4 linked regions of the Homo sapiens genome follow. The protein of the gene in region 2 interacts with the protein of the main gene of each other region in a pairwise test. Each region holds a gene or a part of one and is shown on either strand. Other genes may lie near its edges.

Region 1 (5,217 bases), on a different chromosome or scaffold from region 2:
TGGGTTTCAGGGAGGCAGTCTGAAAGCAGAAAGAAGAGGCATTTACTTTAGAATGTCATTGTTTCCACATTGAGAATGCTAAATAACATAGGCCTCTTCAGACTTTTAATTATTTTACAAACAATTCACACCCTCAGGGAACTATTCTTTGTGAGGGTAAGGTGCTTAGAAAAAGGGAAAAGGCAGTAACCTTTCAGGTCAAAAGTGAGGGATCATTCCCCTTTCCTATTAAGTCATGAATCAAAAACTGAATATCCTCTTTAAACTGTATGTTTAACAGCAGAGTCAGTTTCAAGAGCATACATTTTGTTAACCCAACTTGGAGTTTGTCCAGATGTCTCTTCAGTTTGCTTACTATGCATCCATTCTCTTAAAAGTCATTAACTGGTCAGCAACAGCTGGATTAGCGGTGATTTTTTTTTCTTACCTGGCTTCTAGGAGTTAATCTTTTTTAGAAGATTTACTAAATCCTTGTCTGAGTTTTGCTCCAGAAGCAGGGTCCATAGCTAATCCTTTGCAAACATAAACAGATTTGTTATTATGTCAAAGCAGAACATTACCAAGAAAAAAAGACATGATTGTGAAATCCCCACATGGGTTCAAAAGTTTCTATTCTTCCTTTTTTTTGGTGGGAGGTGGGGGAGTGTGGTGGGGAGGGCAATGAGGGTGGGGTAGCTACAGACAAATAACCAAATAAGGAAAACAGGGGCTACCTCAGGTGCCTTCTTTCCTCTGCCCCTAACCTCTGTTTATTCATGGACTTTGGACTGCACCTCAAGTGACCCACCCTTTATACACTAGGACTTTCGACATCCCCTCCGCTATTGCCCCAGCTTTCAAAATGGACCCTGATATTTTGGATCTTCAAATTATTTGCTAGCTCTCACATGAGAAGACTTTGCTAAGCCTTACGGAAGCATAAGCTGCCTTCCCTGCTTAGGGTTATCTACGTGACAATGGATTCATTCCACAAACAGTATTCTTTTCCCTTGAGCCCAGCAGTGTTGTTAGGTATGGAGATACACAAGTTTATGGATATGGGCACACCACACCATGGCTTAGTTTTGACCACATCGTAGGGGACAGGATTCTCAGAGGTTCTTTTTTTTGTTAAAAAATAAAAAAGGAACAAGTCCCCTCTGTCCTAAGAAGCCTCCTTTCTACTCAGTGTTTTATGAAGGAGCAATAACAAGGAAATTGTGAATCAAACTCTCAAAGGACATAGGAATAGAAAGAGCTTTCAGTGTTAGTTTTACTGAAACATAAACTGGTTTTACTTCTGCCAAAGAATCCACAACTGTGATGCTCAACAGGTTTGCTACACAACTAAATTAGGTAAAGAATGGAATGCTAGTGCAGGTAAAATGCTTAACTTGATAAAAATCCACTGGCTCCAGAAGTAAAGTAGAGCCCACACCAGCAAAGCTGTACAAATGCAATCCACTACTAAATATACAAAGCAATGCAGGTCTAGATCCCAGAACTACATGCTCATAGTGACATTAGTCTCTGTACGAAGATCTCAGAGAAGCAGCTTCTTGGCAGTACCTTCCAGTATATCCATCATTCATATAACAAAAGCCTCCAGAAAACAGCCATCAGTACATATTTGCTGACTAGGCTATACACTCATTCCCCATCTGAACATTAGAATCTTTTAGGAATGCGAGAAGAGCCACTTCTTTTTCTAAAATAATTTCCAAATATGTATCAATAGCCTTAATATTTATATTTTTGGACCCATTTTTCCCAAAACGTACAAAGCTCTGCTCCTTCCTATTAAATAGCTTGCCCATGTTGCTTAACCTCTCTGTGCTTTCCTCATCTGTAAAATAGAGATATGAATAGTACATCGACCTCCTCACGCTATTGTGAGAATTAAATGAGTTCATACGCCAGTTGCTTAACTGGCATGGTAACTTCACTTAATACCAGGTGCTCTTTTTGTATTAGAAGTTTTCCTGTGCATGCTATGTCTTCTCATAAGACTCTGGGATCAATAAGGCTGTTGACTTGTACACACATGTGTCTCCTCTGGTATGAATTTTAAAACTGTTATATGTGGGAGGTACAAGATACTAAATGCTTATTTTACTCAAGAGAGTTGAAGGATGAAAGCCCGAGTTTTAGGAGGCTAACTGCTATCTAGATGAAAGACAACAACTAGATTTATAATATATGATACCATAAGTAGATATTACTTAAAAAAGAAGACAGGGGCAGTGGCTCACACCTGTAATGCCAATACTTTGAGAGGCCAAGGCAGGAGGATTGCTTGAGCCTAGGAGTTCAAGACCAGTCTGGGAAACATAATACCTCACCTCTACAAATAAAAAAAATTATCTGGGTATGGTGGTACATGCCTGTCATCCCATATACTCAGGAGGCTGAGGTGAGAGGGTCACTTGTACCCAGGAAGTCAAGGCTGTAGAGAGCTTTGATCAAGCTACTGCACTATAGCCTGGGCGACAGAGAGATCCTGTCTCAAAAAAAAAAAAAAAAAAAAAAAAAAAAGAGTGATACCAAGTGGCCTAAACTACTGATTGTCAATCTGAATATATTAATAGCAATAACAAAAAACCCAACAACAACAATTTTTAAAGACCTTTATTTTTATATAGCATTGTATAATGAAAAGAAAAAAAAAGACCCTTATGAGCTGCCCTGACCCCTGCCACAGAAACCCATGCAAACCCTCACTGGGCCTGAGGACAGGGCCACCCACCCTGCTGGCACCAATGGACACTGACTGGGAGCCTGGAGATTGAGCAGCCCTGACCATCACAGCCTGTGCTTGTGCCCACCATTGGGAAGCTGATGACAGGCTTGACCCATGTGGTGTCATGCCCACCAGTGCTTCTGTGCATTGTTGGGGCCTGGGGATCAACCCACCCTGCCTGTGGTCAGCTCACCCTGCCTGTGGTCAGCTTCTACCCACCCCTACCAGGTGCCTGAGGGTGAGTCTGCTCAGCCTATTGGTACCTGCATACATCATCCATGGACTTGGAGATTGACCCACCACCACCAGCATCTGCAGCGTCCACATACTCCTCCTAGGGGACTAAGGATGGGGCCGCCCAGCTCACTACTGCCACCACTAGTACCCTATGGATACTGCCTAGGAGCCAGAGGGTTGGTCTACCACCATCAATGTTATTGGCAACCCCATGCATGCCACCCAGGAACCTGAAGAGCCACCCACCATCGCCACTGCTGGCACCTGAGCAAGCCATCTGGAGGTCCAAAGATTGGTCTGCCTGGACCTGCTAACACCAGTGCCCACGTATGCTACCTGGGGTCCCAAGGACAGGCAGGCTCAGTCTACTGCTGCCACCACTGAGGCCTGAAGACCAGCTCACCTTGTGTCCCCATCCCCAGCAAAGCCTCACCACAGCTTCCAATAACAACTGCAGTTTAAGTCACTAAGGAATTCATAGACACCACTGATAGTAATTACAGCCAAAAAATCATGGACACGCAATTACTGTATGCTCCAGTATCAAAGCTAAAGTGCCCTACCCAACTATCACTATAGATACATATGTAGGAAGAAGTCTTTCCTATGAAGGCCAATTCAAAAATTGGAAGAAGTGACTGTTACACCAGATGCAGAGATATTGGCATAGGAACACAAGAAACATAAAAATGCAAGAAAATATGACTCCTCCAAAGGAATACAATTCTCCAGCAACAGATTGCAACAAAAAAATTGATGAAATGCCAGAAAAGGAATTCAAAATCATAATATTAAAAAAGCATATTGAAAGAGAGGGAAGATGGCAGATAGGGGACAGGGCTGATAAGTAGCTCCCACTTGGATGGACAGAACAGCGTGTGGACACTCACTCTGTGGTCGTTTGCTCCAGGAACAACTGCAGGAGCATACCAGGAAAAACAAAAGAAATCACAGATCCTTTGAAAGAAGTGGCAGGCTATTGCAAATTCTGCAAGACAGGTGAAAATTCGTAAGTTCCCAAAGTCTGAGAGGGGACACATCTGCTTCCAAGCACACGTCCCCACTGAGGAACCTGAAAAATCCAGATTACGGGAGAAGAATTTAGCCTTACCTAGAGCTGAAATTGATTTGCTGTGAAATGTAAAAGTAGAAGCAGCAGTGGGACAAGCCTTGTAGGCAGTCCCATTCTCCAGCTCAAGCCCAGGGAAGCCATCCCTGACTCTATCTCACAAGAGCCCTCGGGGAAGGCAACTGGCAGAATTTGAGAGGGGTCACAGGGTGAAAGAAGCTTCCAACTGAACTTTGTAATAATTTTGACTGGGTGCAAACCCTCTTGAGAAGAATCTGGGGGCAAACAGGAACTGTTGCAGAAAGCACAGTGGAGATGCGGCTGACAGTGTGGCAGATTGGCAAAGGTGTGGCCTGAAAGCAGTGCTTGCTTCCTCAGTGGGGAAACTTAGAGCCTGGGACTAGATCTGAGTCCCAGGCTGCAGGCTGCCTAGAGATAAACTTGGCACGGTTAGCAGGGCACGGTGGGAGTGAGACTGGCCTTGCCAACTGTGTGGGAGCTGGGTGAGGCCTGTTGCTACCAGCTTTCGCCCACTTCCCTGGTGACAGAGGCAGCCATAATTCCCTCTGGAACATAACTCCATTGGCCCAAGAACCATCCCCTGATCTCCCCACAGTGGCCACAGCAACCCCCACCCAAGGAGAGTCTGAGCTCAAACCTACCTAATCCTGCCTGCACCTGATAGTATTTCTCTACCCGGTCCAATAGTGAATCACAAAAGACATAAACTCTTGGGAGCTTTATGATCCCATCCATCACCTGAGAAGCCTGAATACTTGTCCTGGCCAAATTAGAGCAAGCTTATATCCCCCTCTACTATTGCAGCTGGCTGGCGCACTCTCAAAAGCACCACCTCCTGGCTCAAGGTTAACCAACTCAGAACATTATAGCAACTCATAACAGAACAACCCTGCTCTAATGAAGGAAAAAACAGCAGCTAATTCCACTGCCTGAAACATCCTGGCTAACCAGTGGTCCCGAGTCTGTCCACATGACAACTTCGCTGCTAGCATAACCAGCATTCAAGAAAGACAACACAGTAAACATATTTACAACCAAGGACTCTCACAGAGTCTACCTGACTCCCCTGCCACCTCCATCAGAACAGGTGCTGGTATCCACGGCTGGTAGACCCGAAGACAAATTGCATCACAGGACTCGGCAGACATTCCCCAGAACCAGCCAATAGCCT
Region 2 (5,502 bases):
CCAAATTGCTCGGATTACAGGCATGAGCCACCACGCCCAGCCGGGTCTCTGTTTTATATCTAGAACGGCATCTGATGTTCAGAAAGACCTGGAGGTAGTCCACGATTCTGAAATTCTGAACCAAAGAAAAAATAAATTCTGCTTAGCCCAGTTTCAGTGCTAAATGCGTTTTAGTTATTTGAAAAGTGCAAACTCATTATGGAATATACAGCACTTCACTATGGAATATACAGTGTTGCCCTGACTGCTCAAGAAATTTGCTGTTTTTCATTTCCCAAACTATTTTTTGATAAACTGGGAATTTATTAAGAGTGGTTTGCATGCAGGCAGTAGCTAGAAATTTTACTACTTCTGATGTCTAACCCTATTAGAAATTAAGACATCAAAATTTTTCTAATTCTTTTTTTTTTTGAGACGCAGTTTTGCTTTTGTTGCCCAGGCTAGAGTGCAATGGTGTGATCTTGGCTCACTGCAACCTGCGCCTCCCAGGTTCAAGCAGATTCTCCTGCCTCAGCCTCCCGATGTGCCACCATGCCTGGCTAATTTTTCTAATTCTAAGCATTTAAAAATATGAACAGCAGTGGAAAATTCCGGTCGCATTTTAAACATAGTTCACAATATCCCAGAGGAAGCTGAACTATGGTTTGATTACAGATTTTATTGAAAAATATTTAAATTCTGTGATGTGCCTTCTATTTCAGAATATTTTAGAAACATGTCATTATTTTAATTAAAATGTGTCTTTTATTGGCCAGGTGCAGTAGCTCACGCCTGTAATCTCAGCACTTTGGGAGGCCAAGGCAGGTGGATCACCTGTGGTCAGGACTTTGAGACCAGCCTGGCCAACATGGTGAAACCTCATCTCTGCTAAAAAATACAAAATTAGCCAGGCATGGTGGTAGTGTGCCTGTAATCCCAGCTACTTGGGAGGCTGAGGCAGGAGAATCGCTTGAACCTGGGAGGTGGAAGTTGTAAGCTGAGATCACGCCACTGCACTCTGGTCTGGGCAACAAGAGCGAAAAATCTCAAAAAAAAAAAAAAAAAAAAAAAAAAAAAAAAAAAATTGGTCTTTTATCTCATTTGCTGAAAAGCATGCAGGAAAGAAGATACTGAACGATAAATGTTCTTTGTACAAAAATATCAAGTTTTGATCAATTCATTAAATGAATAACAATTAGTTACTAACACATGCCAGGCAGGCGGTGCCCTGGATACATGTGTGTGCATGCAGGACATATGCTCTGTGACAATCTGGTGTGGGGAACAGATAAATAGAGGTGTACAGATGGCTGCACAGGGCAGTAAGTTCTATGAAAAAAAAAAAGAAAACAAACAAAAAAAAGAGTTGCATGAAAGAGGAGCATGAGATACCGCAGCTCTAAGTGTGTGAGCGTGCGCAGATGTGAGAGGGAGTATGTGAGTATTGAGAGTGTGTGAGAGTATGCGTAGCGTGTGAGTTCATCTGTGTGAATGTATAAGTGCGTGTGGGGGCAGGAGAGCCCTCTGGACAATGTGGAGCTGAGCATGTGCTCTCCGAGGCAGGGCTGGTACCTCGGACATGCCTGGCCAGTGGCAGGACCACAGCCTAACATCCGAAATTCTTCCTGGAATTCCCAGACCAGTTTTCTGCTTTTCTCAAAGCCCAGAAACTTCCTGCTCTGAGGGTCCAGCAGCTCAGCCCTGCTCTGCGACCTCCCAGCAGGACCTCCAGACAGTTAACAAAGGACTAGGCCATTGTCTATTACAGAGTTCACAAAAGCCCAAATAAATGTTTGATGAGAAGTGTGCAACCCTTGCAAAACAAGGAATCACTCCATTTCTACCAATGACAACTCAGGGGAATGAGTGTCTGAGAAGACTCAAATTGTGCAAGGCAGCTGGGCTCACCCAGCAGCCATAGCTGTTAACAGAAAAGAATGAAAGGAACAATTGTAAGTATAGTTTGTATTTATGCATGCCTCTGTCTCAAATAGACCAAATAAGAACAAACCTTTGAGGCGAAAAGCCCCATCTCATCCCCATGTGAGGCCCAGGGCATACTCCTGGATGAAACTCCAGGAAGAAACCAGAAGGTTAATCTCAGATTAGGCCTCAGCCTATAGATGATTAATATTCTGTACTAGAAGTTGTATCTTTAGGAAAAGATGAAGGGCAGTCTCACTTATAGAGTTTACTATAAGCCAGGCTCAATTTAGAGATAATGTGGCATCATTTTTAGTGGAGGCAGTATGGGAGTGAATCATGGTAGATGTAAGATACACCCAATTTTAATTAAGCCAAATGATCAACAGATGACTTTCTACATAAGGGAAATTTGCTTTTAATTCAAGCTCCTTAATTTAACATCATGGTGTGTGTGTGCCTGTATGCATGCATGAGTTGCAGCAATAAAATTTTCGCAGCAGAAGAGGTAATTTTTAATTTCGTGGGCTCCTGAGCAGAAACCTTTAAAAGTTAAGGATGTAGAACCAATTTATGCCAAGCAGGAGTGCTAAAAGTTGGGGAGTGTTCTTTAATTTAAACTAAGTAGATTTTCTGTAGGAAATCTGAAAAAGAACAATCTGTATACTAACATACACCGTTACATATGACCACTGAACACCTCTAAGTGAAGTGTGAAGATGAACTAGTTAAGATGTTCTCCAAGTGTGCTCTCAAGACCAGCAGCATGAGCATCCTCTGAGAACTGGTTAGGAAGCATATTCTCAAGGGCCAGCCATGGAAGCTCACACCTGTAATCCCTGCCCTTTGGGATGCCATGGTGGCAGGATTACTTGAGGCCAGGACTTTGAGATCAGCCTGGGCAACATAGTGGGACCCTATCTCTACATAAAATTTAAAATAATTAGCCAGGTGTGGTGATGCATACCTGTGGTCCCAGCTACTTGGGAGGCCAGGGTGGGAGGATCACTTGAGCCCGGGAGGTCAAGGCAACAGTGAGGTATGACAGGGCCACTGCACTCCAGCCTAGATGACAGAGTGAGACCCTATCTCAAAATAATTAAAAAAAAAAAAAAAAAAAAAGAAATGCAAATTCTCAGGCTCTGCCTCAACCCTGCTGTAGCAGAAATTCTGGGGTGGAGCCCAGCCATCTGTGTTTTAACCTCCAGCACCGTGTGTTTTAATAAGCCCTTCAGGGGACTCTGATGCAGTTTGAGAACTGGAAGAAAGAAAATCTGGAACAAACATCGGCAGTGCTGGAGCCACCAACAAATGTTTGGTCACCAGAAAAAGATGGGAATGCCATTTATGGGCAAAGCAGCCCATGATGGAGGGAGCTCCAGTCTGTGGATACTTTTCCAATTCTGTCCTGAGGACTCTGGCTCTGCTCCAGACATCTCTCATAGGGAATTTCCCCTGAAGGGACAGCTGGGACACTGCTGTATGGTCTCCTCCTTTCAAAGTGAGCCACCAGTCCCTGCATCTGATGGAGATGGAGTTACTCCCGACCCAAAACAACTCTGCCTCCAGAGGGAGCCAGGGAATGATTCCCATGAAAGCAACTCCATCAGTCCTATTCTCATCTGTTGCAGTCCTTCCACGGTTGGCTTTCTAGAACAGATTTCAAGAAATTGGATGAAAAAGGACCATGCCACACTTGCTCCTCAACAAGTACTAGAGTACTGATAGTATGGTAGAGTACTCTACATTTAAGCTTGTCAAAGAATCTTAACACATTTTTGAAACATGCAGTCAGGATGCTGGCTGAGGCTGCAGTCATCTGAAGGCTAGACTGGGGATGCAGGCTCTACTTCCAAGGCAGTCTGCTCACATGAACCCCTAGGGGGCTCTGTAGGGCTGCCTGAATGTACTCTCAACATGACAGCTGGCTCACCCTAGATCAAGTGACCCAAGAGAGAGCAAAGAGGCAGCCACAATGCCCATCTCGGAAGCTGCCCTCCATCGCTTCTGCCACATCTTGGTCATTAGAAGTGAGTTGCTCAGTGCAGCCCATGCTGAAGGGAAGAGGGTCAGGCTCCACCTTCTGAAGCAAAGAGTACCAAAGAATTTATGGACATCTTTTTAAGCCATCATAGATGGACAGGACACTCATTACAATTTTCTATGATTGGACTAAAACCTAACTAGACTCAGTCCCCGGGTTTTGAAACATCTCCCCTTTGATTTCTCCTCTTTAATTGCCACCTTTGTGCTACCTCCCACTGTCCGCATTTCCTACACTTTCCATCTCCAAACACTGTACTTACTTGGTATATAGTAATTTCTCTGTGCTGACTACTGGGCAAATTCTTCAAATTTTCAAACATCAGACCACTTCTTCCTGTTATGTCCTTCTATGAGTACTCCTTATAAGGAATGATTTTTCCATTCTCATAGTTTTTGAATCAATGGTTCTGGAGAATGAACAATTAGTACAACCCATTCATTTGACCCTTCTTTTCAGAAGTCATTTTCCAAGTGGAATCTAAGGACAATTAATAGGTTGGCGGAAAACCAACCTCTCTCGGGGCCTCTATCATCATTATTTTTGTTTAGGCTTTAGATTCTGTGTTTGAATACAACTAAGTGCAAGAACCCTATTTAGCTCCACATCCCCACACCGGGCTCAGAGTATCTGGTGTTCAACAAACGTGCAGACTTAAAAATTTCTAATTTTGACTACCTCTTCCATTATTCATTCCTTTAGGTAATTCTTACACCTCATCTCTTTGCAATTTGTGCTCGCGATAAGTGGGTACTTTTAGAAAAGAACAGTAGAGAGCACACTCTTTGATCCCATCTCTATGGCTTTGCCAGCTTGATCCATTGCCTCAAATACTTGCTGAAAAGCACCTTTGCAGTTTTATAAAACAGATGTCCTGATCAGATACGCCTCTCCCTCTCTCAAGATTTAATCATTGTTTTCTCATAGAAGGAAAAAAATGAATGCCGAGGACAGACTTTAATATCCTTTATTTCCTCCTCCATTCCTGAAAGCTTATGTATTAATGCGATTTTCTTCTAAGCACAATAGTCATGAGGAAACGGGAGGGAGGGGCCTTGCTCCAGGTACTTTTGGTTCTTTAAACCTTAAAACTTCTCCTTATCTTTCACTTTGGACTTTATGAAATGATGAGGGTAGAAATGCCCTTTGTGTGATTCACCAGGCCTTCCACACAGACCCTGGACTGATCTCCAGCCACGCTGAAGTCTCCAAGCATCAATAATCTACACATCTCCTTCTACCCCCAGAGAGAGGTCACCCTGTTGGTTTCTTATCACAAGTTGTATCATTCTTTTCTTTTGGTAAAGACATGTTTTTCCCCTTTTACTTCTTTACAGAAGGCACTCTTCTGTCCACAGAAGTGGTTCATTTACCTCCCAAAAGTGAGAACAAATGGGTTAGAGGCAAATCGTGATCCACTGATTAATAGTTTCTCTGTTTTTATCTCAGAAAAACTGCCTTTCAGTTTTACCATTCTATTTGGTCACCTGCCCTAGTTGTCTAAGGTAGCCTTCTTTTAATAAAAATTACTCCTGCCTATACTTATGCTGCTAGCT
Region 3 (5,217 bases), on a different chromosome or scaffold from region 2:
TCAACACCCCGTCATGCTAAAAACTCTCAATAAACTAGGTATTGATGGAACATATCTCAAAATAATAAGAGCTATTTATAACAAACCCATAGCCAAAATCATACTGAATAGGCAAAAACTGGAAGCACTCCCTTTGAAAATCAGCACAAGACAATGATGCCGTCTCTCACCACTCCTATTCAACACAGTGTTGGAAGGCTAGAGCAATCAGGCAAGAAGAGAAAGAAATAAAGGGTATTCAATTAGGAAAAGGGGAAGTCAAATTGTCTCTTGTTTTCAGATGACATGATTGTATATTTAGAAAACCCCATTGTCTCAGCTCAAAATCTCCTTAAGCTGATACGCAACTTCAGCGAAGTCTCAGGATACAAAATCAATGTGCAAAAATCACAAGCATTCTTATACACCAATAACAGACAAACAGCCAAATCATGAGTGAACTCCCATTCACAATTACTACAAAGAGAATAAAATACCTAGGAATCCAACTTACAAGGGATGTGAAGGACCTCTTCAAGGAGAACTACAAACCACTGCTCAACGAAATAAAAGAGGACACAAACAAATGGAAGAACATTCCATGTTCATGGATAGGAAGAATCAATACCGTGAAAATGGCCATACTACCCAAGGTAATTTATAGATTCAATGCTATCCCCATCAAGCTACCAATGACTTTCTTCACAGAATTGGAAAAAACTACTTTAAAGTTCATATGGAACAAAAAAAGAGCCTGCATAGCCAAGACAATCCTAAGCCAAAAGAACAAAGCTGGAGGCATCACGCTACATGACTTCAAACTACACTACAAGGCTACAGTAACCAAAACAGCATGGTACTGGTACCAAAACAGAGATATAGACCAATGGAACAGAACAGAGCCCTCAGAAATAACACCACACATCTACAACCATCTGATCTTTGACAAACCTGACAAAAACAAGAAATGGGGAAAGGATTCCCTATTTAATAAATGGTGCTGGGAAAACTGGCTAGCCATATGAAGAAAGCTGAAACTAGATCCCTTCTTTACACCGTATACAAAAATTAACTCAAGATGGATTAAAGATTTAAATGTAAGACCTAACACCATAAAAACCCTAGAAGAAAACCTAGGCAATACCATTCAGGACATAGGCATGGGCAAACACTTCATGACTAAAACACCAAAAGCAATGGCAAGAAAGCCAAAATAGACACATGGGATCTAAATAAACTAAAGAGCCTCTGCACAGCAAAAGCAACTACCATCAGAGTGAACAGGCAACCTACAGAATGGGAGAAAATCCTTGCAATCTACCCATCTGACAAAGGCTTAATATCCAGAATCTACAAAGAACTTAAACAAATTTATAAGAAAAAAAACAACCCGATCAAAAAGTGGACAAAGGATATGAACAGGCACTTCCCAAAAGAAGACATTTACACAGCCAACAGACATATGAAAAAATGCTCATCATCCCTGGTCATCAGAGAAATGCAAATCAAAACCACAAGGAGATACCATCTCATGCCAGTTAGAATGGTGATCATTAAAAAGTCAGGAAACAACAGATGCTGGAGAGGATGTGGAGAAATAGGAACACTTTTACACTATTGGTGAGAGTGTAAGTCAGTTCAACCATTGTGGAAGACAGTGTGGCAATTCCTCAAGGATCTAGAACTAGAAATACCATTTGATCCAGCGATCCCATTACTGGGTACATACCCAAAGGATTATAAATCATGCTACTATAAAGACAAATGCACATGTATGTTTATTGTGGCACTATTTACAATAGTAAAGACTTGGAACCAACCCAAATGTCCATCAATGATAGACTGGATTAAGAAAATGTGGTACATATACACCATGGAATACTATGTAGCCATAAAAAAGGATGAGTTCATGTCCTTTGCAGGGACATGTATAAAGCTGGAAACCATCATTCTAAAAAAACTATCACAAGGTTGGAAAACCAAACACCAGATGTTCTCACTCCTAGGTGGGAATTGAACAACATGAACACATGGACACATGGTGGGGAACATCACATACCCGGGTCTGTCGGAGGGTCGGGGGCTGGGGGAGGGATAGCATTAGGAAAAAATACCTAATGTAAATGACGAGTTGATGGGTGCAGCAAACCACCATGGCACATGTATACCTATGTAACAAACCTGCACACTATGCACATGTACCATAGAACTTAAAGTATCATAATAAATAAGAAAGAAAGTAAAGAAGCAGATCTCCGATTTTAAAAAATGGAATCCAAAAAAAAAAAAAAGAAGACATAGAAGAAGTGGTGTCAGAAAACAAATTGACATTAGAGAATCTGGCAAAAGCGTTCCAATTATTCAAGACTACTTTTGATTTATTTTACAACGTGAACCCTTCTATGATACAGTACCAAAACTAAAGCAAATAAAAGGAGGATTGGTACCATATAAAAACATTTTTAGAGAAATGAAGAAGCAAAAAAGTCAGAAATCAAGATGTGTTTTTGTAAAGTTACACCAGTGTGCCCACCTCTACTACTTCTACCTCCTCCACCTCTCTGCCTCTGCTACTCCTGAGACAGCAAGACAAACTCCTCCTTTTCCTTCTCCTCTTTGGTCTGCTCAATGTGAAGATAACGAGGATGAAGACTTTTATGATGATCCACTTCCAATTAATGAACAGTAAGTATATTTTTTCTTATGGTTTTCTTAATAACATATTCTTTTCTCTAGCTTACCTTATTGTAGGAATACAGTATACTACTACACATACAACATAAAATATACATGTTAAGCAACAGTTTATGTTCTCGGTAAGGCTTCTGGTCAATAGTAGGCTATAGGCAGTTAAGTTTTGGGGGAGTCAAAAGTTATATGCAAATTTCTGGCTTCACTGAGGATCTGTGCCCCTTACCCCTACACTGTTCAAGGGCCAACTGTATTTTAAACTTTAAACCCTATCTAAAGTCACCCAGCCATGACAAAGTGGGGAAAAAAAAAGAGATACCCTGGGAAGCCTGCTTTTAAACCTTGTTCTACTACTTTCTGTTAAATGATTTGTGTCTAAAATGGAAATTACTTGCTTTATCTATATCTGTCCACCTGATGAGGGTTAGAGAAGATTATGATGTAAAGGTATATGCAAATAATATGCCTGTCAATCTGAAAGCATTTATATGTAGACTGTAGCATTTATATATAATCAGCATTTATATATAATCAGCATTTATATTAGCTAGAAATAAATTTTAGGCCAAGTAGCAGAACCCAAGATTCATCAAAGACCTAGAAGATTATCTGTCCCAGGGATGCCCAAGATATAGATTCAGAAATTTAGGAGATCTTTTACACCCTCTTGTTACAACTTCTGAAAAAAAAAAATCATAAATCTAAAATCACTGTATTCCTCTAGTTGTGTAAGTTCTTATTACTGAAAAGAGTAAGCCAAAATAACTTGAAGAAGATCCCTGCCATTACTGAATTTTGAGCAGAGGGAGAACCAGACATTTAAGCAAATATTTAAAGCAATTTAATAGATAAGTCCTAATATTTGTTCTATTCACTGTGAGACCTTGGTATCAATTTCCTTATCTGTAAAATAGGAATAAAAACATCTGTCTCTAAAAGAAGCAAGAAAAGAGCCTTGAAGTGCACCTCATACAGAGGAGCCCAATAACAGGCAGCTCTTAATATAAGGTAAGAGCAACACAGCAGAGATAGAAGCACCTCACTTTCAGGTGTCAAAAGTTATTTGGTGATCAAGATACTTCCAGAGACAGTTTCTCTGGCAGATAAGGGAAGCATCCCAAATGGAAGAAAAAGCAGGTATAAAGTTACTCATTTATTCAACAATTGGTAGGGATACAAATGCTAGGTGTAGATACAGAGATGGAAAAGACTAATCTTGGCAATAAGAACTGACTATATTCCATAAGAGAAAAGCCAGGGGAAGAGATCCCTTAGGTATTCAGAATCCCAGTGGTTGTTAATGAAAGGAGTTAGCTAGCTTGCTTTAGGCAGACAGTAAGGGAAGGGTCCCCAGAGAACCTCTGACCCACCCCACAAGGGCTTACACCAGATGCTTTGTGCAGATAAGGGAACTTGCACAGGGGGCTTGCTTAAACATGCCCACAGCAGACTAAGGGCCTGCATGTGCACTAGGGAAATGTGGTGAAGCCACCAGTAATCTGTGCCTCATACAAATAGGGAACCCAGCCCCATCAGCGTCTCTCTCTCTCTCTCTCTCTCTCTCCTCTCTCTCCTCTCTCTCCTCTCTCTCTCTCTCTCTCTCTCTCTCTCTCTCTCTCTCTATATATATATATATATATATATATATATATATATGCCCTTGTATTCAACTGTGACGGGGCAACCTGGAACCTGCTTTCAGGACCCCTCTCTTGGCTGAGAGCTTTCCTTTCACTTAATAAATTCTACTCCATTCACTCTTAGAGTATCTGTGTGCCTAATTCTTCCTCATCGTGAGACAAGAACCTGGACCTAGCTCAGCTAAGGAGTAAAAAACCTTGCATCATTAAGAAAGCAATAAAATGAGAAAGAGGAAATTGATATAAAGTGAATTATAGGTTTGTGGTAATTACCTAATACAAAACAGAATTATGTTCTACTAGGAAAAATCTCACAAAAAACAGATGTACTGGCTGGGTATGGTGGCTCACACCTGTAATCCCAGCACTTTGGGAGGCCGAGGCGGGTGGATCACTTGAGGCCAGAAGTTCAAGGCCAGCCTGGCCAACATGGCAAAACCCCATTTCTACTAAAAATAATACAAAAATTAGCCAGGCATGATGGCACTCGCCTGTAATCCCAGCGGCTTTGGTGGCTGAGGTACAAGAATTGCTTGAACCTGGGAGGTGGAGTTTGTAGTGAGCCAAGATCGCACCACTGCACTCCAGCCTGGGTGACAGAGCAAGACTCTGTTTCAAAAAAATAAAAAAAGGAAGTACATTTTTGTGAGGAAAAGGTCAGGAAGATATCCAGCCCTGAGCCATGTGGATCCCTGCAGTTTACTTTCATTGCTATATTCTCAAGCACTTTCAGTACTAATAATAGCACCAAAGTGAAAATCTCCATTATCTAGAAACATTTTGGATAGCCAAGTTTTCTAAGTAATTCAGATTTTATTATCTAATACATCAATTGTTATTTTAACTATTTTCGATGGAAACTTGTGAAATGTATTCTAAGCTTCCCTCTTCTTAAATGGAATATAAA
Region 4 (5,217 bases), on a different chromosome or scaffold from region 2:
TCGGACTCCACCAGCAAGCAGCAGTACCAGCGCCATCCTCGGGGGGCCCCTCCTCCCCACCCACCGCCCTACCCTTACCCAGTCTCTCCCTGCTTCCCTCCTCTGGTCCATGCTGGAGAGGTGGCCCCAGTGAGTCCGCCTCTGGGAGGGGCCTTGCCGCTGGAGGCAGGCGAGCGCGTGTCCACGGGGCCTGGAGAGCGCTCCCTGGGCCGCCTAGGGGGGGGCGAAGGGGGGCAAGGGCCCACAGGTCCACCCCTAGCACCTCCATCTACTGAAAAATACCTGCCGAGAGCAGGGGGCGGGCTGGCCAGAAAGGGGCGGGGGTGCGGGAAGGCCACGGCGTCGCCCGCCCGGGCAATGTACTGGATGAAGTCCTCCTGGGGGGCATCCCCCTCCTCCTGCTCCGTGCTCTCACTGGCTGCCCGCTGCCGCTGGAAGTGGTGCCGCTTGGGGGAACCTGCGCACGGGATGTGCCGTAAGCGTCAGCCGGCATGTGCCTCCACCCGCTCCACACACACACAGAATGCCTATGCCCCCCCGCCACACACACACAATGCCTGTGCCCCCCCGCCACACACAACGCCTGTGGACCCCCACCACACACACACAACGTGTGCCCCCCACACATACAACGCCTGGGCCCCCCCCACACACAGAACGCCTGTGGCCCCCATACACACACATAGAACGCCTGTGCCCCCCACCACAGAACGCCTGTGGCCCCCTCACACACACACGCCTGTGCCCCCCCCACAGAACGCCTGTGCACCCCCCATGCCTGTGCCCCCCCCACAGAATGCCTGTACCCTCCTACACACAGAACACCTGTGGCCCCCACACACACACAACGCGTGTGCCCTGTCTCTGTCTCACACACACAGGAGTGGGCCCTGGCTTGGGCCAGACCCTGGCTGGCATCTCCCCGGGTCAGGTGGGTGCGGACAGTGGCTGTGTGTACACCCTGGAGTACAGGTGAGAAAACTGAGGCACGGAGGGAAGAGGTGCTGGGACCAGAGAGCCTGAGCAGGGCAGGGCCAGGAAGCGAGTGAGTGGAAGGGCCTCTGGCACCGATAGTGCCTTGTGGCAGCCCTGGTCAACATGTGGCCACTCATAAGGGCGTGTCCTGGACACCTGGTGGCCTGCACAGCCTGGCTGAAACTACGGAAGGCATGAGAGAGTCACATACAGGCTGGTGGGGGCCAACGAGGAGAGGGAGAGAGGTGCCCTCTCCTGCCAGCTCCACCCTGGTCTGGAGAGCGCTGGGGGACTGCCCCACCCCTGCCTCGGCCCCCTTCTCCCAACAGCCTCCCCAGCAAAGCTTGAGTGGGCAGGCCCCAGCAAACAGGTTCTGGGATGTGCTGCAACCACATTGGACTCTAAATGTCTCTAGTCACCCCTGGGCCCCATTCATTTCAAGATCTGGATTCTCTCAGCTGGAGCGGGGCAGCCAGAGGAGGCCTTCCCCTCCCTGGCCCCTAGCTACCTTGGGGGTGGGGGCTGGGAGAACTCACCCCACCCCCGCTGGCTGGAGCCACAACACAGGGTCTCCCACTGTCTGATGATGTGTCCTCTGTCATGCTGACAGCACCTTCTCTCTGCACTTGTCCCCTATCCTGGCCTCACCTGACGACAGGACCTGCCACCCTGTCCACAAGGCAGAGCGGGCCCCAGCCCCTCTGGGCTGCCCTGGCCCTGCTGAGCTGGCTGAGCAGGGCTGGTGCCTGCTGCCAGTGCTACAGATGGGACACCTCTGCTCCCCACACAAACTCCTGCCTCGAGCCCAGATAAGGCAGCCCTGTCTCCAGGATCCTGCCTGACCCAAGGCCTGCAGAATTGAAGGGCTACTGTCAAACAGTCCAGGGATCTATGTGCTACAGCCCAGAGGGCAAAAGCACCCCCTGCCCCGGAGCTTCGGTAAGTTTTACTGGCACACAGCCACGTGCATTCGTCATGCAGCGCCTCTGACTGCTTCCTCGCCTCAACAGCAGCAGAGTTGTGGAGACACAGCCTCTCTGACCATAACCCCACGAACACCACCATCCGGGGCCTGATGGGAAAAGTCTGCTGACCCCTGGCCCAGTCCAACACTTACTTCGTGTTAGAGGAAGTCAGAGCCCAGACAGGCAGAGGGCCTCGGCCAAGGTCACACAGCAGCTGATGGTCTGCCAGCGGGCGAGGGAGGGGCCCCGGGGGAACCCGCCTTCCACTCACATTCCCAGGGATGAGAGCCGAGCATGGCTGGGAGGGGATGCAGGCCACAGGCCCCACCCTCTGCGCTCCACAGTGACCAGGTGGCCCCCGACACCCTCCTTTACCACCTCATCCTGGATGCCCCAATGGCCCGAGAGCAGTCGGGGCGCGCAAAGCCTTCCCGCACAGGTTCCCGGAGCTGGGTGGGTCTGGCTCAGGCCGCCCGCACACTCAGCCCTCCCAGCCACCTGCAGAACCTCAGGCAGCACGCCCGCTGGCAGACTGGGCAGGACTCAGCCCCAGAGCACCGGCTCCCCACCCAGCCCACAACCTCCTGCTCCTGGATGTCCAGGGCAGCCCCTGGCAGCCAGCACCCAGCCCACAGGGGCCCACTCTCCACCAGGTGCTACAGCTCACCTCTCGTGTCCAGACTGGCTGCCCGCTGGCTGGGCTCCAGCTTCCACTTCTTGACCTTGAAATAGGGGCTGGCCCCATCCAGGCTGGCATGGCGGCGCAGGCGGGTGAGGAACTGCAGAACGGTACCTGCCCCGGATCCCGGGCCCGCCTCCCCAGGCCCTGCTGCAGCCCCGGGCCCTCCAGCCTTGGTGCTCCTGGTACCGGCATCCAACTGGCAGGGAACAGAGATGGCGCTCAGGCTAAGACTTCTTCCTGGGCCCGTGTGCTGGCCCCAGGTGGCCGTAGGTCTGAGAGACAGTCCCAAGGGCCCCCCATCACTGGGACAGAGAGGGGTACCTGCTCGGAGAGGGGCAGAAGCGGGAGGAGGGGCGCTCAGTGGCTGGGTGGGCTACACTAAGGTGCTCTGCCCTCTGGGGAAGGTCCCTGGATATGGGGTTTGGAGAGAAAAGGAGGTGCGTGTCTAGAAGGTCTCTCGCCCACGGCGTGGGCTGCAGGTGAGGGAGGGCAGGGGTGGCGCACCCTCTCCAGAACCTAGGGAATGTCAAATGAGGTGGGAGCCTGGGGTGCCCCCTGCATGTGTGAGGACACGCCTGTGTCCGGTGTGCGGCCGGCTCCCTCTTTCTCCCGTGTGCAATGACCCGGCGGGCCAAGGAGGGCTGCGGTGGCTGGCAGGTCATAGGTTGACCTTGGTCCTGGACTGGGGACAGGGAGGGGAAGGAGCCTCCCCGGCTGTGGACACCATGGGGGACACGCAGGGGCCCTCACCGAGGTGCCTTCCCCAGAGTCGCTAGATGCCGAGGGGCTGATCTCTGCGAAGTCAGTGGCGCCCGCGGCTGAGTTGTAGGGGTCACCTGGCAGGGCGGAGCTGGGGCCCACAGAGCGGCCGGTGAGGGCCTTCCCCGGGGGCTGTGGGACAGAGCCAGGTGGGGGAGGAAGCAGTGACAGGTCAAAGAGCATGGGTGGGTGAGGGACATGGGCAGGTGAGGAGCATGCTGGGCTTGGCCCCCTGCCCTGCTCCACCCCACCCCGCCCATCCCGAGATGAGGGCCACCCAGAAAAAGAGTGGGTGAGGGCGTGGGGGTCCGGGAGTCCCCGGGGCTGCCTCCCGTCCCCCGAGGAACCGGGGCTGCTGCCCATAGGCTCACCTGGAAGATGGCCAGAGTGGCCTTGGGAGAGGTGGCCGGGTGGGGCGTGGTGGCTGAGCTGGCCTCGCCTGAGTCACACTCGTGGATGGTGACAATCTTGAGGGGCGGCAGGTGCAGGTGCGTGAGCCGGGCATTCTTCAGGTGGTGGAAGTCCCCCTCCGTCAGTGTGTACCTGCGACAGCATCTGGCCATCAGAGCCCGCCCACCTCCCATGCCCGATGCCCCAGCTGCCGTGCTCTGCCATCCACCCTGCCGGCCTGGGCAGGGGCAGGCGAAAGGGGGGCAACTGGCCAAGGCCGCCCCACCCCACGGTCCCAGTCCAGGAGCCTCTGCCTTGGTCCCTGCAGCCTCCGCACCCAGCTCCTCCCCCGTCCCGGCGGCCAGGACCTCAGACAGGCCCTGGGGTGCCTCCCAACGCCGCCCCGCTTACCGGCGACCCTTGTCCTGCGTCTTGCGGCTCTGCTCAAACAGCGCCGCCTCATTGAAGGAGACCCGGCGGCCCGTGGAGCTGGTGGACAGGAAGCGTTCGGTCTCCGCATCCTGGCACTCGGGGTCCTCTCCCCGGAAGTCGGGGTCTGCGTGGAGAGGCAGGAGAGGGTGGGCCCCGGGCGGGCCACGCCAGGCGCCTGGTCCCGGGAGGGCTGCTCCTCCGGGCGGCCACGGCAGGGAGGGCTGGGGCCGCGGCACGGGCGGCCGGGCTGGCGGGGCGAGGGACACTCGTCCATCCGCTCACACACTCACTCGCTCAGCACGCGCCTGGGCCCACCTACGCCTGGGCGTTAAGGAAACAGAGATGAGTCGGAATCGAGCTGCGCCCAGTCTGGTGGGGGAGACAGACAGACACAGACGGTCAGGCAGCCCGAGGGGGCGGCGGGTGGCCGAGGGGCGGATGGACAGGCGAGCGCACAGCCAGGCTGGCCAGCACCTCACCTTGGGCTGGGTGGGTGCCGTTGTCCAGGTAGGTGGTGGTGGTCTTCTCCGCTTCCTCCATGGCCCTGGGAGAGACGTTGGGAGAGCCCAGTGGCACGGAGGGCCCAGATAGCCACAGTGGGTCTCGGCTCTTTGCCCCAAGCCAAGCCCTGCGCATCACCCAGTCTCCAGAGGCATAGCCCACCCTGTGACTCAGAAGCCAGTGAGGTAGACCCCCCACCACCCGATGGCACCCACAACCACCATGCACCTGCCCAGCCGAGGTGGGGGCCTCGCACCTGTTGAGGCGCTGGTGGACGTCCCAGCAGCGCTTGCAGAGGAGCAGGACGCCAGACAACACCACCAGCGTGCCCCCCACGAACAGCGACATCACCACCACCAGCAGCACGTAGTTGTCCAGGATGGGGTCTGGCTCTGCCTGCGGGTGTGCAGGGGGGGTCAGGTGCTGCTGGCCTGGACGACCTCCTGCCCCTCCCACCTGTCCCCTGCACCCACCGTGGGGCGTCCAGTGGCATTGTCCCACGACGTCGTCAGG

The links.
Region 1: the proteins of NCK2 (region 2) and ZC2HC1B interact in binary tests that used the Homo sapiens proteins (3 or more experiments, as listed by UniProt).
Region 3: the proteins of NCK2 (region 2) and WASF1 interact in binary tests that used the Homo sapiens proteins (3 or more experiments, as listed by UniProt).
Region 4: the proteins of NCK2 (region 2) and CBARP interact in binary tests that used the Homo sapiens proteins (3 or more experiments, as listed by UniProt).

What each region holds. Positions count from the first base shown.
Region 1 is NC_000006.12:143,932,944-143,938,160, reverse strand, and holds part of ZC2HC1B (zinc finger C2HC domain-containing protein 1B), read right to left. Parts: intron 513-5,217; coding exon 442-512; 3' UTR 428-441; intron 20-427; 3' UTR 1-19.
Region 2 is NC_000002.12:105,887,094-105,892,595, reverse strand, and holds part of NCK2 (cytoplasmic protein NCK2), read right to left. Parts: intron 1-5,502. UniProt on the Homo sapiens protein: Adapter protein which associates with tyrosine-phosphorylated growth factor receptors or their cellular substrates. Maintains low levels of EIF2S1 phosphorylation by promoting its dephosphorylation by PP1.
Region 3 is NC_000006.12:110,119,984-110,125,200, forward strand, and holds part of WASF1 (actin-binding protein WASF1), read right to left. Parts: intron 1-5,217.
Region 4 is NC_000019.10:1,230,819-1,236,035, forward strand, and holds part of CBARP (voltage-dependent calcium channel beta subunit-associated regulatory protein), read right to left. Parts: coding exon 5,178-5,217; intron 5,101-5,177; coding exon 4,961-5,100; intron 4,748-4,960; coding exon 4,683-4,747; intron 4,573-4,682; exon of another isoform or gene 4,494-4,572; intron 4,328-4,493; coding exon 4,183-4,327; intron 3,925-4,182; coding exon 3,753-3,924; intron 3,514-3,752; coding exon 3,373-3,513; intron 2,819-3,372; coding exon 2,608-2,818; intron 458-2,607; coding exon 283-457; coding exon of another isoform or gene 75-282; exon of another isoform or gene 1-74. UniProt on the Homo sapiens protein: Negatively regulates voltage-gated calcium channels by preventing the interaction between their alpha and beta subunits. Thereby, negatively regulates calcium channels activity at the plasma membrane and indirectly inhibits calcium-regulated exocytosis.